7 linked regions of the Homo sapiens genome follow. The protein of the gene in region 7 purifies or fractionates together with the protein of the main gene of each other region. This does not show direct contact. Each region holds a gene or a part of one and is shown on either strand. Other genes may lie near its edges.

The links.
Region 1: the proteins of SLCO1B3 (region 7) and SDF4 purify together in Homo sapiens (affinity purification with mass spectrometry; one large-scale study listed by BioGRID and IntAct). This does not show direct contact.
Region 2: the proteins of SLCO1B3 (region 7) and FAM114A2 purify together in Homo sapiens (affinity purification with mass spectrometry; one large-scale study listed by BioGRID and IntAct). This does not show direct contact.
Region 3: the proteins of SLCO1B3 (region 7) and CNIH1 purify together in Homo sapiens (affinity purification with mass spectrometry; one large-scale study listed by BioGRID and IntAct). This does not show direct contact.
Region 4: the proteins of SLCO1B3 (region 7) and ADCK1 purify together in Homo sapiens (affinity purification with mass spectrometry; one large-scale study listed by BioGRID and IntAct). This does not show direct contact.
Region 5: the proteins of SLCO1B3 (region 7) and SEC62 purify together in Homo sapiens (affinity purification with mass spectrometry; one large-scale study listed by BioGRID and IntAct). This does not show direct contact.
Region 6: the proteins of SLCO1B3 (region 7) and SLC39A6 purify together in Homo sapiens (affinity purification with mass spectrometry; one large-scale study listed by BioGRID and IntAct). This does not show direct contact.

Annotation. Positions count from the first base shown.
Region 1 is NC_000001.11:1,222,002-1,225,501, reverse strand, and holds part of SDF4 (45 kDa calcium-binding protein isoform 2 precursor), read left to right. Parts: intron 1-1,533; coding exon 1,534-1,670; intron 1,671-2,144; coding exon 2,145-2,258; intron 2,259-3,500. UniProt on the Homo sapiens protein: May regulate calcium-dependent activities in the endoplasmic reticulum lumen or post-ER compartment. Isoform 5 may be involved in the exocytosis of zymogens by pancreatic acini.
Region 2 is NC_000005.10:154,021,911-154,025,410, reverse strand, and holds part of FAM114A2 (protein FAM114A2), read left to right. Parts: intron 1-3,500.
Region 3 is NC_000014.9:54,427,875-54,431,374, forward strand, and holds part of CNIH1 (protein cornichon homolog 1), read right to left. Parts: intron 2,531-3,500; coding exon 2,387-2,530; intron 1-2,386. UniProt on the Homo sapiens protein: Involved in the selective transport and maturation of TGF-alpha family proteins.
Region 4 is NC_000014.9:77,932,312-77,935,514, reverse strand, and holds the end of ADCK1 (aarF domain-containing protein kinase 1), read right to left. Parts: intron 2,296-3,203; coding exon 2,124-2,295; 3' UTR 501-2,123; downstream 1-500. UniProt on the Homo sapiens protein: Appears to be essential for maintaining mitochondrial cristae formation and mitochondrial function by acting via YME1L1 in a kinase-independent manner to regulate essential mitochondrial structural proteins OPA1 and IMMT.
Region 5 is NC_000003.12:169,983,807-169,987,306, forward strand, and holds part of SEC62 (translocation protein SEC62), read left to right. Parts: intron 1-1,998; coding exon 1,999-2,059; intron 2,060-3,500. UniProt on the Homo sapiens protein: Mediates post-translational transport of precursor polypeptides across endoplasmic reticulum (ER). Proposed to act as a targeting receptor for small presecretory proteins containing short and apolar signal peptides.
Region 6 is NC_000018.10:36,110,186-36,112,340, reverse strand, and holds part of SLC39A6 (zinc transporter ZIP6 isoform 1 precursor), read left to right. Parts: intron 1-1,091; coding exon 1,092-1,282; coding exon of another isoform or gene 1,283-1,294; exon of another isoform or gene 1,295-1,347; intron 1,348-2,155. UniProt on the Homo sapiens protein: Zinc-influx transporter which plays a role in zinc homeostasis and in the induction of epithelial-to-mesenchymal transition (EMT).
Region 7 is NC_000012.12:20,880,205-20,883,704, forward strand, and holds part of SLCO1B3 (solute carrier organic anion transporter family member 1B3), read left to right. Parts: intron 1-650; coding exon 651-816; intron 817-3,213; coding exon 3,214-3,398; intron 3,399-3,500. Other genes in the region: SLCO1B3-SLCO1B7 readthrough transcript protein, read left to right, coding at 651-816, 3,214-3,398. UniProt on the Homo sapiens protein: Mediates the Na(+)-independent uptake of organic anions.

The sequences.
Region 1 (3,500 bases), on a different chromosome or scaffold from region 7:
GTGAGCGGCAGCCTGGCCTTCTTCCATGAGGATCTCTGCCCAGTGCTTCTGAGCCGTGCCTGCGGTGTGTGCACCCTCGAAGCTTGCCTGGCCCAGGTCCCAGAGGCCACACCTGCCTGACGAGGGCCTGCTTGCCACCTCATAACGTGGCCGCGGCTGCCCCTGAGCGGAGCATAGAGGCAAGGGGCCAGGGCACCCTACTCTCGGGGATGCCTCCGGCAAACGCACCAGCCGGGGTCTCAAGACCTCGCACCTCTGGAAGCCCTGCCTCCCAGTGCTGTTGCCCTGGGGGTTAAGTTTCCAACAGGTGAGCTCAGGACACGGGCGGCTGCAGCAGGGGTAGGAGCCTGTGGCTTCCACAAAGACATAATGGTGAAGCCGAGCTCTGAAGCTGGGACGGGAGTGACCTGTCCTGGGGCCTGTGGCCTCCTGACCTGGCCTGCGCTGGCCCCGTGTCCCCAGTCTGTGTCCCTATCCCCCAAGTCTGTGGTCTCTTCCATCCTTGCACACAATGTTAAGTCCCCACACGGTCTTCTTCCTAAATCTCACAACTTAAATTTATATGAAGGATTTTGTTTTGTCTTGTTTTGAGTCAGGGTCTCGGTATGCCGCCCAGGCTGGAGTGCAGTGGTGTGATCACAGTTCACTGCAACCTTCGCATTCCAGGTTCGGGAGGCCTCCCACCTCAGCCTCTTGAGTAGCTGAAACCACAGGTGCACGCCACCGCGCCTGGCGAATTTTCGTAATTGTTTTTGTAGAGGTGGGGTCTCCCTATGTTGCCCAAGCTGGTCTTGAACTTCTGGGCTTAAGTGATCCACCTGTCTTAGCCTCCCAAAGGGCTGGGATTATAGGTGTGGCCACTGCGTCCTGCCTATATGAAGGTTTTTGTGTAGCCATACCTGAAGCATCGAAAATAAAACATGGGCCGGGCCCAGTGGCCACACCTGTAATCCTAGCACGTTGGGAGGCTGAGGTGGGTGGATCATTTGAGGTCAGGAGTTTGAGACTAGCCTGCCCAACATGGTGAAACCGTATTTCTGTTAAAAATACAAAAATTAGCCAGGCGTGGTGGTGCACCCCTGTAATCCCAGCTACTCGGGAGGCTGAGGCAGTAGAATCGCTTGAACCCGGGAGGCGGAGGTTGCAGTGAGCAAAGATTGCGCCACCACACTCCAGCCTGGGTGACAGAGTGAGACTCCATCTCAAAAAATAAAATAAAACGTGAAGAGTGTGACTTTTGGAAGCTGTGGTTGGAGAGTGGGGTCTGGTGGTGATTCTGTGTGACAGAGGGGGAGGGTCCATGTGTTTCCCCGGGGAGGGGACCGTGGCATCCACCTTCCCCAGTGTCTCTGGCGTGGCCCGGCACCCCACAAGCCCCACGTCCCGGACGCTTTTCGCGTTGCCTGGTGGAGCCTGTCGCTGTTGGTGGCAGGTTCACGCAGCCATGGAGTCCTGGGCCGGCGGCATCCGTCTGGCTGTTCGGGGTCCTGGGGGCCCAGTCTGACGGCCACCTGCCCATTTGCTGTCTTGCAGGGTGGATGTGAACACTGACCGGAAGATCAGTGCCAAGGAGATGCAGCGCTGGATCATGGAGAAGACGGCCGAGCACTTCCAGGAGGCCATGGAGGAGAGCAAGACACACTTCCGCGCCGTGGACCCTGACGGGGACGGTACTGTGGCTGGGCCGGGGTGGGTGGGGCGGTGGGCGGGGCGGGCAGGGCCATGGGCCTTGCCTGGTGCCTGGAGGGCAGACAGGCCCTGTCTGAGGGACGGGCGGTGGGGAAGTGTCAGCCGGAGACCCCGAGGTGTGGTGGGGTGCACGGAAGCTGGGTTCATGATGCCAGAATCCTGGTGACAGAGGTGTGTGTGCCAAGCACTGGGCGTGGCCCATGGAGGGCGCCTCTTATGTCTTCGGGGCCTTCATCTGGTGGTGTCTATGCCTCTTGGTGGCCCCGAGGCACAGACGTTGCCGGCTGGCCTCACAGGTGAGGAAACGGGTGTGGGGTGCTGGCCGGGGCCCTGGGGCTCCAGACGCTGGCATCCTGCCGCTTCCAGCCTGGGCAGCAGAGCAAGACCCCATCTCAGTTGAGAAGGAAGTTCAGCTCAGTATCAGAGGCCCTGACAGGTGTGATCTGCTCTTCCAGGTCACGTGTCTTGGGACGAGTATAAGGTGAAGTTTTTGGCGAGTAAAGGCCATAGCGAGAAGGAGGTTGCCGACGCCATCAGGCTCAACGAGGAACTCAAAGTGGATGAGGAAAGTGAGTGCTCAGCCAGGCTCCCGCCACCGGTCTCAGGCATCCTGTGTGTGCGCGCGTGTGTTGTGTGTACATGAGTGTGCCGTGTGTGTCGTGTATGAGTGTGCCGTGCGTGTGCTCGTGAGTACGTGTGTGCGTGCCGTGTGTACGAGTGTGCTGTGCGCGTGCTCGTGAGTACGTGTGTGCATGTTGTGTGTACGTGTGCTGTGTGTGTGCTCGTGAGTACATGTGTATGCGTGTCGTGTGTACGAGTGCACTGTGCATGTGCTTGTACGTGTGTGCGTGTCGTGTGTACGAGTGCGCTGTGCGTGTGCTTGTGAGTACATCCAGGTAGCTGTTCATGTAGGCTCGTGAGTACATGCAGGTGAGTGCGCCCTCACACCCGCTGTGTGCACACGTGTTCGTCTTAACAGCATGGCCCAACCTGGTTGGTGGTGGCTGTCAGGAGGGAAGTGGGTGAAGCCGTTGCTGACCTAGGCGCCGCCCAGGAGTCCGGTGGGGAGCGTGTGAGCTGTGCCTGGGCAGCTTTCAGCTCTGCTGGTCACGGCACCTTCACGGCCGTTACTCAGTTAGGTCCTGCAGAGAATCTGAGGCTGTGAGTCTGGGTTGGGGCCTGCCCCGTACTCTGAAGGCCACGTGAGGCAGAGTTTCCTGGGGAGAGGGCACAGCCTGTGCCTGAGGGCCTGGCCCTGAGGCCTGGGTCTGCTGGAGACATCTGTGTGGCCGTCAGGTGGTCACCAGAGAGCGGTCAGGTCCCAGGGAGAGGCTCTTCCTTGGGTCTGGGGTGTGGCCGTTGGCCAGCAGGGCAGCCTCAGCCCTGGGCGGGTCCAAGCTGGTGCCTCTGCGTGAAGAGGGTGGGGCCGGGTGGGGCCCGGCACCCGGGCTAAGGCCAGGTGAGGGGAGAGCCGGGCCACCCTGCACGGGGCCAGGTCTGGGAGAGCCGTCCAGGCAGAAGCCCCTGCTGGCCCAGTTGTGAGGCACAGCTGAGCGGGTACCGTGGCGTTGCTGCCACCCTGGGGCTCCGTGTGCCCTTCCCGGTCATGCCCGTGGTCTGGTTTGGGGCTTTGAGGAGAACGTGCAGAGTCGCCTGCTCCGTCGCTGCCCGGCATCCTGGGGTGGGTTCTCTGCTGCCCTGCAGGGCGCCCGTGTCGCCCACGGGACTGGTCACGTGATACGGGGCTGCTCCTGGCAGGCTGGGTGTATCTTACACCTTTATTTTTTGTGCCTGCTTAACTTATCAGTAAC
Region 2 (3,500 bases), on a different chromosome or scaffold from region 7:
TGTTGGTGAATAACAATGATGCATAAAATTGCTGGTGCCATAACATGGATCAAGATGTTAGCAGACTCTACTAGTGTCATTGCATTTTCATTGCCATGCATTGGCAGTTAAAAAAAAAAGTGCCAGTTTTATTTAATCTTGTCCTTGATGAAGCAGTAAAAATTATTAATTTTATTAAATCTTTACCTTTAAGTATGCATCTTACAAATATTCTGTGTGATGCCTACTGAAGTATGATGGTTGTCTCAGGAAAAGCACTTACATTATTTGAGTTGTGAGCTGAACTATGTGCTTTTTTCGTGGAATACCATTTTTACTTGAAAGGATAACAGTCACAGAGACTATTCAGAATAGGATAATTGGTACACATTTTCCTGAAAATGAATGAAGTGAACCTTTTCTTCAAGGAGAGCAACTAATTTATTTGTGAGTCATGATAAAAATTTAAGTGAAGGTTGAAACTTTGTAAAACATATTTGCTGCTGTGGTGAGCTTGACAGCTTCCCAGTGCTTATAGACTCTTCTTATGAAATTGGTGGTGATCATATTTGTTAAAATATCACTTTTTGATATTTTAACAAGGAAATGTGTCAGCATTTGGAAAGTCTGCATAACTCAGAGAACCAATATTTTCTAAATGTCAAATCACCATGGGTAAAAGACCTAATGGATTTTAATTTAGTGTACAAAATTTTATGATATGGTTTCAGGTATACTGCAATATGGTTCATTGCAACTAATTTTTAAGAAACGACCACTTGTTGAGTTTTAATGTGGTATTAAAGAATATTAATAATGATCTGAAAAGGCTATTAAAATACTTCTTCCCTTTCCAACTATGTATCTTTGTAAAGTTGGATTTTCTTCATATACTTAAAGCAACATAACAGACTGAATATAAAAGTAGATAAGAGAATTTAGCTGTCATCTGTTAAACTAGATATTAAAGAGATTCAACCCTGATGGCACTGTTCTCACTAAACTTTTTCTTTTTTGAAAAATATAGTTTTTTAAAATAAAAAGTAGGTTTATGTTAATAAGTGGTATGGGTTTACTGTTTTGAATGAATTAATAAACACTTTGTTTTAGCTTTATATAAATATTTATAACTTTTTATATGTATATGTATAAAACTTACACTAAAAAAGCTCTTTAATGTTCTCAGAAAGTTTTACAAGAACAAGGTCCTGAGACCAACAAGTTTGAGAATTACCAGATTAAATGACCTAAACTGCAATGCTTTTTAGAAATGTCTCTGATTGCTTTTTAGAATTGTACATCTTTATTTCTTTCTGTTCATTTATCTGTTCATCTTTTACTTCACTGTTAGCTGGCTTCTGATATCCCCTGAATCTTATTTGGTTTTCTATTTCTAATCTGTGGGTGAGAAACCAGGTAACTAATTTTATTTGAGATGTCTATTAAAAGCAAAGAGCTCTGAGTGAGGGTCTTAGAGTCTTTCTTGTGACAGGAAACATAAAGTTAACTGTGTGGATTCTCTACAAACAGGGACTTTTTTTTCTTTTTCTTTTTAAATCAGTTAAGGAGAAGAAATATACATGTATATCATTTATAATTACATAGTTATCTTTACCAGTGCTTTTTGTCTTCTGTTTTTTTCAATTTTTTTTATTTCCATAGGTTATCAGGGAACAGGTGGTGTTTGATTACATAAGTTCTTTACTGGTGATTTGTGAGAATTTGGTGCACCTATCACCTGAGCAGTATACACTGCACCCAATTTGTGCACCTGAGCAGTATACACCACACTCCCTTCCCATCCTTTCCCCCTGAGTCCCCGAAGCCCATTGTGTCATTCTTAAGCCTTTGCATCCTCATAGCTTAGCTCCTACTTGTGAATGAGAGCATATGATGTTTGGTTTTCCATTCCTGAGTTACTTTACTTAGAACAATAGCATCCAGTCTCATCCAGGTCGCTGCGAATGCATTAATTCATTCGTTTTTATGGCTGAGTAGTATTCCATCATGTATATATATACCACAGTTTCTTTATCTACTCGTTGATTGATGGGCATTTGAGTTGGTTCCACATTTTTGCACTTTTGAATTGTGCTGCTTAAACATGCGTGTGCAAGTATCTTTTTCTTTTTTAAATTATTTTATTAGTATACTTTAAGTTTTAGGGTACATGTGCACAACGTGCAGGCCTGTTACGTATGTATACATGTGCCGTGTTGGTTTGCTGCACCCATCAACTCATCATTTATGTTAGGCACTTCTCCCAATGCTATCCCTCCCCCATCCCCTGACCCCACGACAGGCCCAGGTGTGTGATGTTCCCCGCCCTGTGTCCAAGTGTTCTCATTGTTCAGTTCCCACCTATGGGTGAGAACAAGTGGTGTTTGGTTTTCTGTCCTTGTGATAGTTTGCTCAGAATGATGGTTTCCAGCTTCATCCATGTCGCTACAAAGGACATGAACTCATCCTTTTTTATGGCTGCATAGTATTGCATGGTGTATATGTGCCACATTTTCTTAATCCAGTCTATCATTGATGGACATTTGGGTTGGTTCCAAGTCTTTGCTATTGTGAATAGTGCTACAATAAACATATGTGTGCATGTGTCCTCATAGTAGCATGATTTATAATCCTTTGGGTATATATCCAGTAATGGGATCACTGGGTCAAATGGTATTTCTAGTTCTAGATCCTTGAGGAATCACCACACTGTCTTCCACAATGGTTGAACTAGTTTACACTCCCACCAACATTGTAAAAGCATTCCTATTTCTTCACATCCTCTCCAGCACCTGTTGTGTCCTGACTTTTTAATGATCGCCATTCTAACTGGTGTAAGATGGTATCTCATTGTGGTTTTGATTTGCATTTCTCTGATGACCAGTGATGATGAGCATTTTTTCACGTGTCTATTGGCTGCATACATGTCTTCTTTTGAGACATATCTGTTGATATCCTTTGCCCACTTTTTGATGGGGTTGTTTGATTTTTTCTTGTAAATTTGTTTAAGTTCTTTGTAAATTCTGGATATCAGCCCTTTGTCAGATGGGTAGATTGCAAACATCTTCTCCCATTCTGTAGGTTGCCTGTTCACGCTGATGGTAGTTTCTTTTGCTGTGCAGAAGCTCTTTAGTTTAATTAGATCCCATTTATCTGTTTTGGCTTTTGTTGCCATTGCTTTTGGTGTTTTAGTCATGAAGTCCTTGCCCATGCCTATGTCCTGAATGGTATCGCCTAGGTTTTCTTCTAGGGTTTTTATGGGTTTAGGTCTAAGTCTAATCCATCTTGAATTGATTTTTGTATAAGGTGTAAGGAAGGGATCCAGTTTCAGCTTTCTCCATATGGCTAGCCAGTTTTCCCAGCACCATTTATTAAATAGGGAATCCTTTCCCCATTGCTTGTTTTGGTCAGGTTTGTCAAAGATCAGATGGTTGTAGATGTGTGATGTTATTTCTGAGGCCTCTGTTCTGTTCCATTGGTCTATATTTCCCGTTTGGTACCAGTACCATGCTGTTTTGGTT
Region 3 (3,500 bases), on a different chromosome or scaffold from region 7:
TTACTAATTATTAAAAAAAAACTCAGAGCATGAGAGAGTATGCTTTATATAGCAAACTAGTATCACAGAAAATGACAAGACTAATGACAAGTTCACAGTGATTTTAATTTGCATTTATGGACTTTTGCCTAACATATGACTTGGCTCAGTGCATATGCTGTAGTTGTCCCCTATTCCCTTCCAATTTTAGCAAGTAGAACGGCACAGCTGAAAGCTTAATGGCGGATCAGAGCTTAGAGAAGCCATCCAAACATCACACACTCTGGAGTTGTGTCTAATAATAGAATGAGTATCTCTGGAGGGCTCACTTCACGCCAGGCCCTGTTAGGTCTCTTATATACATTACCTTGCTTAATCCTTCAAGGAGTCCTAGAAGGCAGGTACCATGTGTATCCCCATTGTATAGAAAGGAATGATCAATCAAGGATCTTTCCCATTACAGAAAGGATCTAAGCAATAGCAACTTTTAGGAAGTGGTTAAAAAAGAAAAGGGGGGAAAACAGCAAAATAAAAGGCAATGACCTTTTGATTTAGGTTTAAGAACTGCCAAGGGCAATTCTACAGAGTGCTATGGGAACGGCATAGGGGCATGATTCAAAAAGCACATAACTCTAAACAGAAATACAAAGGAGTTGAACAAGCTTGATAGACAACCTTAAAACACAACAAATGTCCTGGTGCTACCATATCCTGCTGAACATTTTCCCACAACTGCACATCTCCAACTTTATCATTTATTCAATCATTCATTTCATTTCTTTCATTCAACAAATACGTATGAAGTGCCTATCATACACCAGCCCGTTCCAGACATTTGCTATGGAAACTTATGAAATGAAAATTAACAGGAAATTAAAGTGACACATAGAATTTCACTTTTCAGAGCACTTCTTTGTTTCATAGATGAGTAATATCTGCATATGCACTAAAGGATACTCATTTTCACAGTAATAGCCTCTAAAGGCATAAAAATACCAAAAATACCTTTTTCCTAAATTTCAGTCTAACCATTCATCTTTTCTATGATGGAAACTTATGTATGAAGAGAAATATGAATATGAATATAAGCCTATCTTAGCAAGTTTTCAAGTAATGAAAAAGAGAAGGGAAGCTTATGCTGTTTTTTAAAGCTTACAGCTTTTTTGGAAATATTCTGAAAATCAAGGAGAAAGTCCTCTCTAGTTGAGTATGTATTAATAAAAAATGAGAAAGTATTTTATATAAGTGATGTGTAAAAGTATATTCACATAGCTTAAAGAAATATATAATTCTACATTTAACAGTGTCCTTTTCTAGTTTTAATAAGCAGTCATTTCACTGCACCTACAACACACCTACAGCAGTGGTTCTCACCCAGGGCAATTTTGCCCCTCAGGACATCTGGCAATGTCCAGAGACATTTTTGGTTGTCATGAGGGGGCAGGAGGGTGCTCATGGCAACTAGTGGGTAAAGGCCAGGGATGCTGCTGAACGTCCCATGATATACAGGACAGCTTCCCACAGAAATTCCCACACAGCCCAGAAGCGTCAACAGTGCCGAAGCTGAGACACCCTGACCTAGAGGAACAATGAGTCCATGAGAGTATAAAAGGAAAAAAATCAGGCTGGGCGCGATGGCTCACGCCTGTAATCCCAGTACTTTGGGAGGCCAAGGTGGGCGGATCACCTGAGGTCGGGAGTTCAAGACCAACCTGGCCAACATGGTGAAACTCTGTCTCTACTAAAAATACAAAAATTAGCCGGGCGTGGTGGTGCACGCCTGTAATCCCAGCTACTCAGGAGGCTGAGGCAGGAGAATTGCTTGAACTTGGTGGGGCGGAGGTTGCAGTGAGCAGAGATCGCGCCACTGCACTCTAGCCTGGGCAACAGAGACTCCGACTCAAAAAAAAAGAACAAAAATCGGAAACTGCACCACCCTGTAAGGTAGAACTACTTCTTTCATTCATACCACTCAAATCAAGCAAATCAGAAAATAAAGGGCAGAGCACACCACTTATGAAGAATGATAAGGAAAAAATGAAACATAATGTCTGGAGAGACCCTGAAGACAAGCAGAAATTTCTGCAAACTCACACATCCCTATCCTTCAATGACATCACTTTGCCATGGAGAATGAGGACCATCCTTTACTGACTGAATGTGTCTGAAAACTTATGAAGCAGCATCCCTGACCAAACCTTCTGCCTCTGATGGCAGGCTGGTTTACTGCCTTGACAAGCACCAGTGTGGGCCACACTGAATGTGTGCGAATTTGCTGGTGTGCACCATGCACACTTAAGACACTAAGTTATTCTTCAAATGGATTTTGAGGTGTGAAAACCATAATGCCTGCAAACTTTTAAAGCAGCAAAGTGAAAGCATATTTCATTTTACCTTTTCAACTTACCCATATAGGTAGTAAAAAAATGCTAGAAGATAAAAAGCTAATTTGCACCATCCTTCCTTCTGACAATATGCTAGAATATCTGCATTCATGATGGTTGTAGGGTCATAGAGTCCTGGGCCACTCATCACTGGTCTACTCATATACCTGGAATAAACACAGTCTATTAGGCATTCAGAAAGGGCAGTAAATGTTCAGATAAGAAAGCAGGTCTTTCTTCTAAAACATCTGTTACGAGAGGTGGTCCATAAAGGGAAGCATTCTTTTACTTATGGGTAAAATGCTTTCCTTTTACCATCTTAATTTTAAAAGTAGAGCCCCTAAATGAGCAGAATGAGATAGCTAAACAAGTTTCTTCTAGTCTCTGCCTTTTCAGAAATCCATGAAAAATAGGAAGAACTGTAAAAAGAAAATAGGTGTTTTGTTTTTACTTATCTTGGCATAATTTTAGACTTACAGAAAAGATACAAGAACCTTTCACCCAGATATTCCAAATGTCCATTTTTACTATATTTGCTTTCTCCTTCTCTTTCTCATTCTGAGTACTGGTTTTTTTTGGTTTTTTGTTTTGTTTTTTTGTTGTTGTTGTTTTGAGACAGGGTCTTACCCTGTAACCCAGGCTGCAATATAGTGGTGCAATCTTGGCTCACCACAATCTCAGATTCCTGGGCTCAAGCAATCCTTCTGCCTCAGCCTCCCAAGTAGCGGGGACTACAGGCACACGCCACCATGCTTAGCTAATTTTTTTTGTAGAGGGGGGTTTTGCCACGTTGCCCAGTCTGTTCTCCAACTCCTGGGCTCAAGTGATCCACCTGCCTCAGCCTCTCAAAGTGCTGGGATTACAGACATGAGCCACTGTACCTGGCCCTGAGTAAATTTTTTTTTTTTTGAGACAGAGTCTTGCTCTGTTGCCCAGGCTGGAGTGCAGTGACACGATCTTGGCTAACTGCAAACTCTGCCTCCCAGCCTGAAGCAATTCTCTGCCTCAGCTTCCCAAGTAGCTGAGTTTATAGGCGCCCGCCACCACTACTGGTTAATTTTTGTATTTTTAGTTGAGACAGGGTTTCACCATCTTGGCCAGGCTGGTCTTGAACTCCTGACCTTGTGATCCACCCAC
Region 4 (3,203 bases), on a different chromosome or scaffold from region 7:
CTCCTGTAAATCCAATTTCCTCTGAATTCAGGACATTTGAGACCCAAACTCAGGCATATAAGACAGCCCAAGGAGCAAATGTATTCCATCTCTACAGCACTGTATAATTTAAAAGAAAAAAACTAAAAACCACAGGCCACTACTCAGCAGCTGTGTGGCCACAAGCAAATTACTAAACCTCTCTGAGCGTTGGTTCCCACCTCAGTAAGATGAGGCTAATAACCCCTCCATCACAGAGGGGATGGGAAAACTCAATGATGTAACATATTTGCAGAGCCTAACACAGACTCTCACATATGGAAGGCACTCAGTAAACATCTACCTCCTCCCTTGCTATCTTCACACAGTCCCATACTCCCAACTCTTCTTGCCTCTCTGCTCACCCCAGCTAACTGTTCTGGGTGCTGGGCCCACTGGCACCATGCTGATGTTTTAGATCCCAGGACAGCACGAAGCCAACCATTACACATACCCAAACTAAAAAGCAAGTAACCATGACCTTGAACAGAAAGGACATTTATATTTACTTCAGTGGCTATAAAAGACACCATAAAATATACTATGCAGCACACATCCTCAAGATTAATAATCAGATATTGCAAATTATACTCTCAGGTCCCTGGGTGCATCCAACTGGTCACTAAGAACAATTAATTCTTTTGGGAAATAAAAGGATTGTGAATTGTCACTGATCACTGAAAAATCTGCTTGCTGTACTATGAATAAAGAGTACAGAAAATTAGGCTCAAATTCAGGATTTTTTCTGCCCTTGTGAATTGGGTGAAGTAAGATCAGAGAGGCTCAAATACAATTACTGTCCGTGAAAGCAGACAGTAGGACCTGCCAAAGACAAAGACATGGGAATTAGAGCAGGAGCTTAGGGATGTCCAAGAAACAGAAGCAGACAACCAGGCTGGGGGGAGAGGCAGTGCTGGCAGCAAGCAATGGGGTAGAAACACAGAAGTTTCCCAGTGAAAACCCAGCCACAGTGACGGAGGTTTCAGCAAGAGGACTAAGGTCTCCAGAAGGACTGGGGGGAGACAAGTAGAATTCCAGGCCTAAAACTGGGGCCACTGAATGAGAACCAAAGGGATAAGTCAGGAAACAGTAGAACAAGGTTGGTACCCAGGTCACAGAAAAACAAGGTCCAAGGTTTCAGCTGAGCCTCTGAGTTCCTGGCCTTGGGCTTCTTAACTCCTCCAACCAGAGTCTGAGTCTTGGAAGGTAAGAGAAACCCCCAAGAAGCAGGAAGTGGCCCCATAGTGGAAGTGGCCCCACAGGTTGGAAGGATTACAGGAGCAAGAAGCCAAGCAGAAGATCACACCAATACTCGATTCAGGTCCACTCTGACCTAATGGGCATTGTAGGTGAACTCCCAACCTATAAGGAAAATCCCACCAAACAGCCCCTGGCCTTCTGTTCCCTAGATCTCCCTGGGAAACCCTGAGGAAGCAGCAACCAAGAGGAACCATAAGCCCTTGGCGAGGACCATGAGCACATTCTGGAAGGGCACGTGCCTGGGGTCAGGTGGGAGGCCAGTGAGTTATGATGGACAAATCCTGCAACCTTGAAGGAGTTTTTATTGAAACACAGTACAGAAAACACCAAACGTCACTGACAGCAGTGAGCTCATAGCTGTAATGGAGTTGGCCCCAGATGCCAAACCACCTCGCTGAGGTGTGACTTCCTCTGGAGGGTGACATGGCAAGGAAAGGGAAGGTGTTCTCTGTCAAATTCAGAGACCATGTGCACCTCCAACAAAATCACACTCCCTACAAGTTCAGTGTGCCCCCAGTGGCACCCGTGGCACATCTTGACAATGGGAAGGGTTAACGGAAGTAGTGGGGACATCCAACCCAATGGCACATACCAGGAATGGGAATGTAGGCTGCTGAGTCTTCTTGGAGAAGAAGAGAGAGCTATGCCACAGTTCAGCTTGTGGGCCCTGAGACAAGGGCCACAGTGTGCGGAGAGGATTCCAAAGGAGGAGAAGGATGGTGACATGGACAGTGACTCTGGGGCTGCGGGCCACGATGTGGCAAAAATGGAGCAGCTGGGTGGAGGCAAGATGAGGGGCTGAGGAGTGGAAAGACACCAGAATGGGGCAGGGAGAGCAATTCCACTCAGAGTGGAGCAGGGAACAGCCAGCATATTAGGGCCAAGACCCGGTCAGCCAGCTTCAACCCCTTCACACGCAGGATGAGCTCATGGAGGTTGATCTGCCATAAGTTGAAGGCCTCGCTGAAAGAGATCTGGGTCCTTCTGAAGAATGAACAGGTATTCTTCTTCTTGTGCCTGGAAAAAGGGAAAGAAAAAAGGAGAAAAGAGATAAAGAGGCAAGAAACACTAGCTCTGTATCATTTAGAAAAACTAAAGATGGTGGCTTTGGCCAACTCACCAGCTCCCTGCCCCTAGGGACTACTCTTGGATACAGGATCATACTATACCACTACCCAATCGGGAGCCAGAGGAAATCAAATATTTCAAAGGAGTTTTTCAAATAAGTGGAATAAACAAAAGCAGTTGTTTCACAGGGCATCAATGGTCTAATAAACCCATTGGGTAGAACATTCCAATGTTTCTTTCTCCAAAAGCATAGTAAATCTATGCCAACCAAGAATCTCCCAAACTCAAAAATAGTCAAAGCCTTTCCAAACTTTCTAAGGATAAGAATCACTTGGAAACCTGGTCAGGTGGTCCTGGGAGGCTGAGGCCATTATGAATTCAGCCCAGCTCAATCCCTTCTGCACCAACAAAAGGACATGATGAAAACTGGTGTTTATGATGATGACCTATTCAAGACTTCATTTCCTGAACCCTCAGAGGAAGAATAAATCAAAGTTGGCCCTTTCAGTATGCAGTATATTATGCTGTAAACTAATTTAATATTTGATAGTGGGTACGTGATATACGTGGTCAAATCTCCTTTCACCAGATAGGTTCCCAGAATGGTCCATTCCCAGCACGGAAGGGCTGGAAATTGAGCATTACCTAGGCTTTCTCTCTTGAGTGAGAACAATCATCCAGAGCGGGGCCCTTCCGACGTATTTGTCACACTCAGTAATACAGCCTGAAACCCTCTTTCCTCTGGAACTAGCTCCCTGAGGAAGCACACTTCTCTTCCTCATTAATGCCCAAAGGTGCTGAGGCATCTAAAAAGATCTGAGGTTGGACATGGTGGCTCATGCCTGTAATCCCAGGAC
Region 5 (3,500 bases), on a different chromosome or scaffold from region 7:
ACAGGATGATTATTTGCCCAGCCGAAATGTAGGGTTTCCATTATTATCAAAGAAAAAAGAGCAGAATAGGAGATAGCTACAAGTCTCTATCTCTTACAGAATGTAAGTCAGACACATCACTTGAGGGGCTTAAAATTTTTAACATTTCTTGATGCTTTATGCTTATCATTTGTAATGGAAGATTTGTATGGTGGTAGCCTTCCATAAAGACTGCTTAATTCAGTCACTTCACCAGTACGTAAACATGAGTTATATACTGGGCATTGAACTGTTGTGAATTTCAGGATATATCCTTTCCTGTTATACCTATACAATAGTAACATCTATAAAGTCATGGCTCCTAGGGTTGTGTGTTTGAAATTCTTACTTGCATGAGACTATCTAGAGTGGGATTGTGGGGGAGGATTATATATCTATAATAAAGTGTCCTCAGGTGACTGATGTGAACCCCTTGTTGAGAACCACTGTAATAGAAATTTTTATTTTTATAGGCGTTGGGAATAGCTTGATAAGTAGGATAAAATCTCTTAATGGTCTAGCAAAGATACAGGCACTTAAACATGTTAATATAGTACAGTGTGGTAAGCATTAATGGTGTGAAAGCACCAGGTAGGAATAGTTAATTTAGTCAGGAAGGATAAGAAGGGTCTAAAGGACATTTGAGCTTAGACTTGAAGATGACTGGCAGATTGCCAGGCGTGCCAGGAAGGAGGTTAGGTCTGTTAGGGAAGGAAACAGCCTGAGCAAACGCATGGGTGCTTGGTATCCTGAGAAGCCTAGATTTTATTCTGTAGAAAGCAGCATGCACTCCATAACTTTTAAAGTTGTGAAATATCTTTTTTAAAAAAACATGTTTTTTTAGAATGGAAACTGGCAGAAGTAATATCTGTGAATCTGATTCCCAAGGAAATGGGCAGAGTAAAATAAGAGGTTAAAGTGGAACCTCTGGTGTTAAAAATTGAAGAACCACGTTGGAAAGACAATAAAGAGTTCTGGTCAATATAGAAATAAGAGGGAAGAGTACTGTTATTTATAGAAACTAAGAAATAAAACTGAGTTTTATGGATGAATGATCAAACAGAGTTCTGATCTGAATGAAGTAAATTTCTGTTGTGTAAAATAAGAGCCTGATAAAAGTAAATTAAGTTTTGAAGTAGTGGTTCCCAGCTTATGGGCCCTCCATGGAGGAGTAGGCAATGAAATTAATACAGTCATAGAGACTATGTTCACCAAGCATGATCTTTAATAATTGATCTTTGTGTCTTCTCAGGAGAGAAAAGTGTGGAGTTGAGTGATACTAGATCTGTAATAGGGCCTGGCTGGAATCTGTCTTAACTGCGCTTTTATCCCAGACTGGTTCATCATTACATTAGGGACAAAAAGGTTGGCAGTTGCTGGTGTTTTGGTTGAATAAATAATGATGTGCACACATGGAACAATTTTTTTTTCCCCCAAGACAGAGTCTTGCTCTGTCGCCCATGCTGGAGTGCAGTGGTGTGATCTCAGCTAACTGCAACCTCTGCCTCCTGGGTTCAAGCAATTCTCCTGCCTCAGCCTCCCGAGTAGCTGGGATTACAAGCGTCCACCACCACACCTGGCTAATTTTTGTATTTTTAGTAGAGGCAGGGTTTCACCATGTTGGCCAGGCTTGTCTTGAACTCCTGACCTCAAGTGATCTGCCCGCCTTGGCCTCCAAAGTGCTGGGATTATAGGCGTGAGCCACCAAGCCCAGTCAAACAAATTTTTAAGTGTATGTAAGAACATACAAATTTACTTAAGTGCTTTATAGAATTTATAGTTATCCTATAATCATTTTCTAGCGCCAGAAGAACCACTACTACTGAAGGAAAGATCTTTGGAATTTATTTACCTTAGAAATTACTTCTCGTATGTTAAGAGGTTGATGACTGCTTTAAGGGACCTAAAATATAGAATTAAGCATTACTTTCTAATGTGACATTAGAACTTTTAAGCACCGAGGTTTCTTGATTCTTCTAGGTGTATGTATGGATCTATGACCCAGTTCACTTTAAAACATTTGTCATGGGATTAATTCTTGGTAAGTAGTGAGATGTTAATAGCTATAAAGTGCAATCTAAAATTTAGAAAACAATATGCAGATACTGTAAAAGAAAATGTTCCTAAATTTAACATAAAATAGTTGTCATTTTAAAAATACTTTAAATAAAGTCAGAAGATAAATAATACACTAAGGAAAATATTTGAAACATATTAAAGATCTTTTAAGAGATTAACAAACTGATAGAAAAATGGTCAAGGTAGTTAACAGATAAAGAAATACAATGACCAATCATCATGAGTGATACTTAATCACACTCATATACAAATTAAAGCTGTAGTGATTAAGAGTCTTGCAAACCTTAACATTAAAGGTCTTAGAAAAAAATCAGCTCTCTCTAACAGTTGATAGGTATGTCTATTGTTTTAATTTTTGTAAAGGGCAGTTTGTCAGTATCTTTGAAATTTTATGTGTCTGCAGTGACCCAGCAATTCTAGGCTGTTCCCATACAGTTGCACAAAGTGTGTGCATTGACACATTATCTGTTTTTTTCCAAATCCCTTAGACTATACTTGAGTATAATCTAGCAAATATCTTTCAAATTCAAAATGCTTATACCATTTGATCTAATAAATTCCACTTTAAGGAATTTACCCTATGCCATAATCACAGTTGCACAAACGTACATGTGCAAGGATATTATACCTAGAATAGATAAAAAAAGAAAAGAAAGTTACAGACGAGTAAGAATAGTATAAGCTCATTTACTTATTTAGAAAAAAAGTCCCTGTAGCTAGTTAATTATATATAGGCAGTCTCTGAGAATACAGGTAAGCTTAATAGTACTTAACCTCTGGGAAGTGGAATAAGAATTAGATGAAGACTTAATTTTCTCTATACCTTTTGATTTGCTTGTTTGTGACAGGGTCTCATTCCTGTCACCCAGGCTGGAATGCAATGGCACAATCATGGCTCACTGCAGCCCGACTTGCTGGGGTCAGGTGATCTCCCACATCAGCCTACTGAGTAGCTGGAACTATAGGCACACTCCACTACACCCCGCTAATTTTTGTATTTTTTTGTAGAGATGGGGTTTCGCCATGTTGCCCAGGCTGGTCTCAAACTCCTGGGCACTTGCCTCGTTGTCCCAAAGTGCTGGGGGTTTGATTTGTTTTTGATTTGCTTTTTAACGTGTGTATTCCAGGAGGTTTTATGGGGAAAGAATGATTTAACAAACAGAAAAAAAAAAAATAGGTAGCAGTTAAAATAAGCTTGGTCAATATGGTATGATAGGATCCCATTCAAAATAACTCTTTAAGGCTGGGCTCAGTGGCTCACACTTGTAATCCTAACACTTTAGGAGGCCAAGGCAGGGAGATGGCTTGAATCCAAGGGTTCGAAACCAGCCTAGGCAACATGGCGAAACCTCGTTTCTACAAAAAATTAGCCGGGTGTGGTGGTTCACACCTGTAGTCCCAAC
Region 6 (2,155 bases), on a different chromosome or scaffold from region 7:
ACAAGGTGAATAAGACTACAGGATACAAAGGAATCATCTTCCATTAACAAAAGTTGAGAAAGAGAATCTCATTGGAATTGAAGGGAAGTGGATGAGTTGTGTTTTCAATATTGTTCTTCTTTGTCACTAGGCATTAAAACCTTCCCAAGTTCTGGATCCCAGTTCACGTCCTTGTTTTTCTTGTTTTGGAGATATATTCACACACATACCGCTGATGCCATTTTCACTTTTGTTCCTTGTTATATGTTCAGCCATTCCTTATCATCTTCAGCATCTATGTTCCACATTCAAGTCCCATGAAGCCCCTCTCTTATTTCCATCTTCATGTGTCTCTTTTCTCCTTTTATAATTGTAGCATTGAACTCTTCAGCTGTTTTTTATGCATTACCATTATCATTTGCTGATCATCTCATGTGTGTTCTCCACCCATTCCTCCCTTCTTTGTGGCCAAATTCCAAGCTCCTTGAAAACACTGCAAGACCACAATATTAAATTTTTAGTGTTTATCATTTTGACAAAGTGTAAGCCTTAAAAAATTTTTTTGGTTAAGGTATCTGGCCAGGTGCAGTGGCTCACGCCTTTAATCCCAGCACTTCGGGAGGCCGGGGCAAGGGGATCACCTGAGGTCAGAAGTTCAAAACCACCCTGGTCAACATGGTGAAACCCCGTCTCTACTAAAAGTAAAAAAATTATCCAGGTGTGGTGGCATGCACTTGTAGTCCTAGCTACCCAGGAGGCTGAGGCACAGGAATGGCTTGAACCCAGGAAGCAGAGGTTGCAATGAGCCAAGATCGGTGCCACTGCACTCCAGCCTGGGTGACAGAGCAAGATACTGTCTCAAAAAAAAGAAAAAAAAAAAAAGTTTGTACATCAAGTTGAATGATGAAGAATAAAAAGGAAAAACAATAGTTTCTACAGCTGTTAGGGTGATTTACTAACACTGCTTTAACCCTAGGTCATTCTTAATTTTGTTTTCTTTTCCCCCTCTCAAAAACACTGGAAAATTTTCTTAAATCTGGGAAGTATCTTGGTATGTGTCTTAAAAATGATTTCTCAATGACTTTTTCCTCCTTTTTTGTTTTCTGTTAAAGGTGACTTTGCTGTTCTACTAAAGGCTGGCATGACCGTTAAGCAGGCTGTCCTTTATAATGCATTGTCAGCCATGCTGGCGTATCTTGGAATGGCAACAGGAATTTTCATTGGTCATTATGCTGAAAATGTTTCTATGTGGATATTTGCACTTACTGCTGGCTTATTCATGTATGTTGCTCTGGTTGATATGGTAAGTTTTTAAGAAGTCTTATTACATTATTGACCAACAATAAAATAGAGAAAATATTCGGTAAAGCCTCATTTTTTTTCTCTCTTTTTGGGGGAGCAGGAAGTGGAATCTTGCTATGTCGTCCAGGCTGGTCTCAAATTCCTGAGCCCAAATGATCCTTCCATCTCAGCCTCCTGAGTAGCTAGGACTATAGGCTCAATAAAATATCTTTTTTTTTGGCTGGGCACGGTGGCTCATGCCTGTTAGTCCAACATTTTGGGAGACCAAACCAGGCAGATCACGTGAGGTCAGGAGTTCGAGACCAGGCTGGCCAACATGGTGAAACCCTGTCTCAACTAAAAACTACAAAAAAATTAACCAGGGTTGGTGGCATGCGCCTGTAGTCCCAGCTACTTGGGAGGCTGAGGCAGGAGAATCACTTGAACCCAGGAGATGGAGGTTGCAGTGAGCTGAGATTGTACTACTGCACTCCAGCCTGGACAACAGAGCAAGACTCTGTCTCAAAAAAAAAATCATTTTTTTAAAAAAGATTTTAAATGCAGTCATTATGAGAAGTGATTCTATATTCAGAAATTTGTGGCATATAAGAATATAGGTTCTTTAGAGTTTTTTTTTTTTTTTTGGATTGTTGATCACACCTTTATCTTGCTTAATATGTGTCCAGATTCACAAAAATATCTACATCCTTCTGATGTATCATTTTAGGGTATGATCTCAGTAATCAGGCAGTGAATTTTCTATAGATTTGTAGGAAGTCTAGGACAAGATGCATATTGTTGGCATGCTGTATACTTCAGAATGCTTAGTTTATTAATCAACAAAGGAGTCATATCTTTTTGTCACTAATGTCCTCAAAACAATCCCAACCAATCT
Region 7 (3,500 bases):
TATAATTATATTATAAAGTAAATCAGTATAAACAGTATTATAGTTTTATTCAGAAAATATGCAGAGATTTTTTATCCTTTTTCAACTAATTCTATTATTCTTGATTTTTTATTCCTCAGAGGTTTGGTTTTAACTACATTGAAATCTTTTTTTTTATGTAGTTAAAATATAGATTGTAAAATTCAACAATGTTAACTAACATGCATAGATTCAGAGGATTTTAAAGTGAGCTTAGAGGAACCTCAATCTAATGCCATTACCTCCCTGAAGAGAAACTGAATCTCAGAAAAATGAAGTTACTTATATAATGTAAAGTTTCATTGATAGAATGATAAAGACCTCTTGTCTAAGTCTTATCTAACCTCTTTTATTTCTTTTTTAATTTTTACTTTTTCTAGGTCATAAGTCATGTCTTGGTAAAGAAGGAGAGTTAAAAGTCAATAAGCATTACAAAAATTGCCATTTTGACATCAGCAAATCAAATTTCTCTATCTAATTAAAGGAAAACCCTTTCTCTTATTTCTCTTCTCTTTTCCTCTTCTCTTCCTCCTCCTCTATTTCCCCTCTCCTTATCCCCTTGTCTCCCTCTTCTGCTCTTTCTCTACTTCCTCTTTCTCTTTTTTTGATATATTTCTATCATATATTTTCAGAAATAATTCAGTGGCATCTCATGTAGATGTACCACTTTCTTATTGCAACTCAGAGTGCAATTGTGATGAAAGTCAGTGGGAACCAGTCTGTGGGAACAATGGAATAACTTACCTGTCACCTTGTCTAGCAGGATGCAAATCCTCAAGTGGTATTAAAAAGCATACAGTGAGTATTAGTTTTCACTTTTTCTCCTCTCCTTAATCAAAATCACAGATTTGATTTAATAAATACTTATCAAATCTTCCTATAACTAAGGTCTCCAATAAAAAGATAAAACAAAAAGATTCCAGTATTATCTGTCCTCGTGATAGCTGTGAAGTGTAAACAAAGCTTCATATAAAACTCTGCTTAGGACACAATCAGACTTCTCTGTTACTTGAATTCTAATTAGAGATTACCCACTTTTTTTCTTGAGATTTTAAGAATATGACCTGTTAGAATTTGAATGCATTTAGGGTCTCTAAGAAGCATCTCATTTGACTAAAGCACATGATTTTTATTATTTGGAATTACTTTACCCTTTGGAAGTTAGGGGAAAGTTCAGAGTTAGCCTGTTGTCAGCACTACCTGCTTTACGAGAACAATAATCTATTTGCATTTTAATATATACATACTGATAAGTGTAGCTAGGGACTCACTGTGGCCTTGGACTTTCCAAGAAATGAGTCAAGTCTTCATGTTCACTTGAATTCCCTATTCTTGATTTCCTATTTTGATGTTCCCAAAGCTGGCACTTCTTTTACTCAGTATAATTTAGTATCCTACTCACTGATTGCCAACATATCCATTGGAAATTCCATTTCTTTCTTAACTCAAAGGCTTTTTTTTTTCCATGTGACACATATCCTGTTTTTCCCAATATCCTGGGTAACTCCCAATGATTGGAAATTAGGTATGCTGTTCCCCATACCTACAATCAATTCAACATCTCACAAGTTGCATAACTATTTTTCAGGCCCTTTCCCTATTACCAACATTAGCAATATAGTCAGCTGCGATTATGACTCTCTACCACACTCTTCCATGCTTCAATTCTAAACATTTTCTATCTTTCCCTTGCCCAATATCCTACCAACGTATTATTAAACGGCATGGAGAAATTTGAAGAATAAAGCCTCCTAGTTTCCTTGAAGATAGGCTACAACTTTAGTAAACTTGCACATTTGTGGCCCAAAGACTATACTTAAAAGCCCACATCTCATATTCATCAGCTATAGTATCTTTCAGTAAGAGTACCCCATTTAATCCCTGGTCCTGTGTTGTCCAGTAGTGAAGACCTGAAAGAGAGGTGATATTAGTATCCTAAAGAGAGCTCTGTCTTCATGGAGACATCATCTTAATATTGGCAATGGCTATGCTATGTGGGGGCTACTGCAAAGTTCCTTTACTAAATCCTCAGTAAAATTGTTAAAATAATGCTCTCTGTATCAAAGTTGGGTTTCATTGGCCAATGTGCTTGCTCCATAAAAGATTCCTCCATGTTATTCCTATTGAAAAAAAATAAAAGGAAAAAAGGAATCTTTCTTGAACCATACGAGTATGGATTTAAATTCTTTTTTTTGTTTTGAGATGGAGTCTCACCCTGTCACCCAGGCTGGAGTGCAATGGCATGGTCTCGGCTCACTGCAGCCTCCACCTCCTGGGTTCAAGCAATTCTCCTGCCTCAGCCTCTCAAGTAGCTGGGATTACAGGTTCTCACCACCACACCCGGCTAATTTTTTTTTATCTTTAGTAGAGACGGGGTTTCACCATGTTGACCAGGCTGGTCGCAAACTCGTGACCTCATGATACGCCTGCCTCATCCTCCCAAAGTGCTGGGATTACAGGTGTGAGTGACCACGCCTGGCCAATTCTTTTACAAGTTCTCCTTCAGTAAATAGTCTTCAGCAGTAGTAGGTTCAAGATGAACTTAAATCTTTAGCCTAGAATCAGAGCAGAATTTATTAAAGCCACCTAACCACATACACTGCCTGCCTGATCTCTAAAATTACTTGTTCCTAATATTCCTCTTCTATATTCTAACCATTAGCCAGCACATTCTTTTGTGTTAAACCTTTCTGGTAATAATATACTATATCTTGTCACCTGTCATTATGGTCTTGAATGTTGCTTTTGCCTGCTTAAATAGAATTCTGGCACCACTGCCTGGCTCTATTTCCTCTGCACTCTGTCCCATTTTCATGAGTGGCTAAGTTTTGTCCCGTTTCAAACTATATTTTCTGGATTCTTTTGGTAGTTCTTTCCCAGAGTAAGTCCCTAATACTTAGAACCTGCCAAAGAGAGTAAGAATGTGTATTTTGGAAAGAAAATGTAGGTGGAAGAGAAATATTTTAAATAATGTATATTAATGAAAAAATTATATACAGAATTTCATACACTAATTTCTTAAATTCCTAAATTCAGGGAGCTATTTTGCCTTCACTATTAAGCAACTATATTTTTATAACATTTTTTAAACTGTAAATATTTTAGTTTGAGACTTCTTTAAATATAATGGAATGTATTCATAGCCCTGTTGTATTTGGCAAATGTATTTGTTAATATTTCAAAAACTATTTTTAGGTGTTTTATAACTGTAGTTGTGTGGAAGTAACTGGTCTCCAGAACAGAAATTACTCAGCACACTTGGGTGAATGCCCAAGAGATAATACTTGTACAAGGAAATTTTTCATCTATGTTGCAATTCAAGTCATAAACTCTTTGTTCTCTGCAACAGGAGGTACCACATTTATCTTGTTGACTGTGAAGTAAGTATGATCCTGTAAAACATTGTCATGTATATTAGACTAAAACACACCTAATGATAGGCATATTTTTCTGTATTTTGAGCTCAAATTCATATTTTGTCA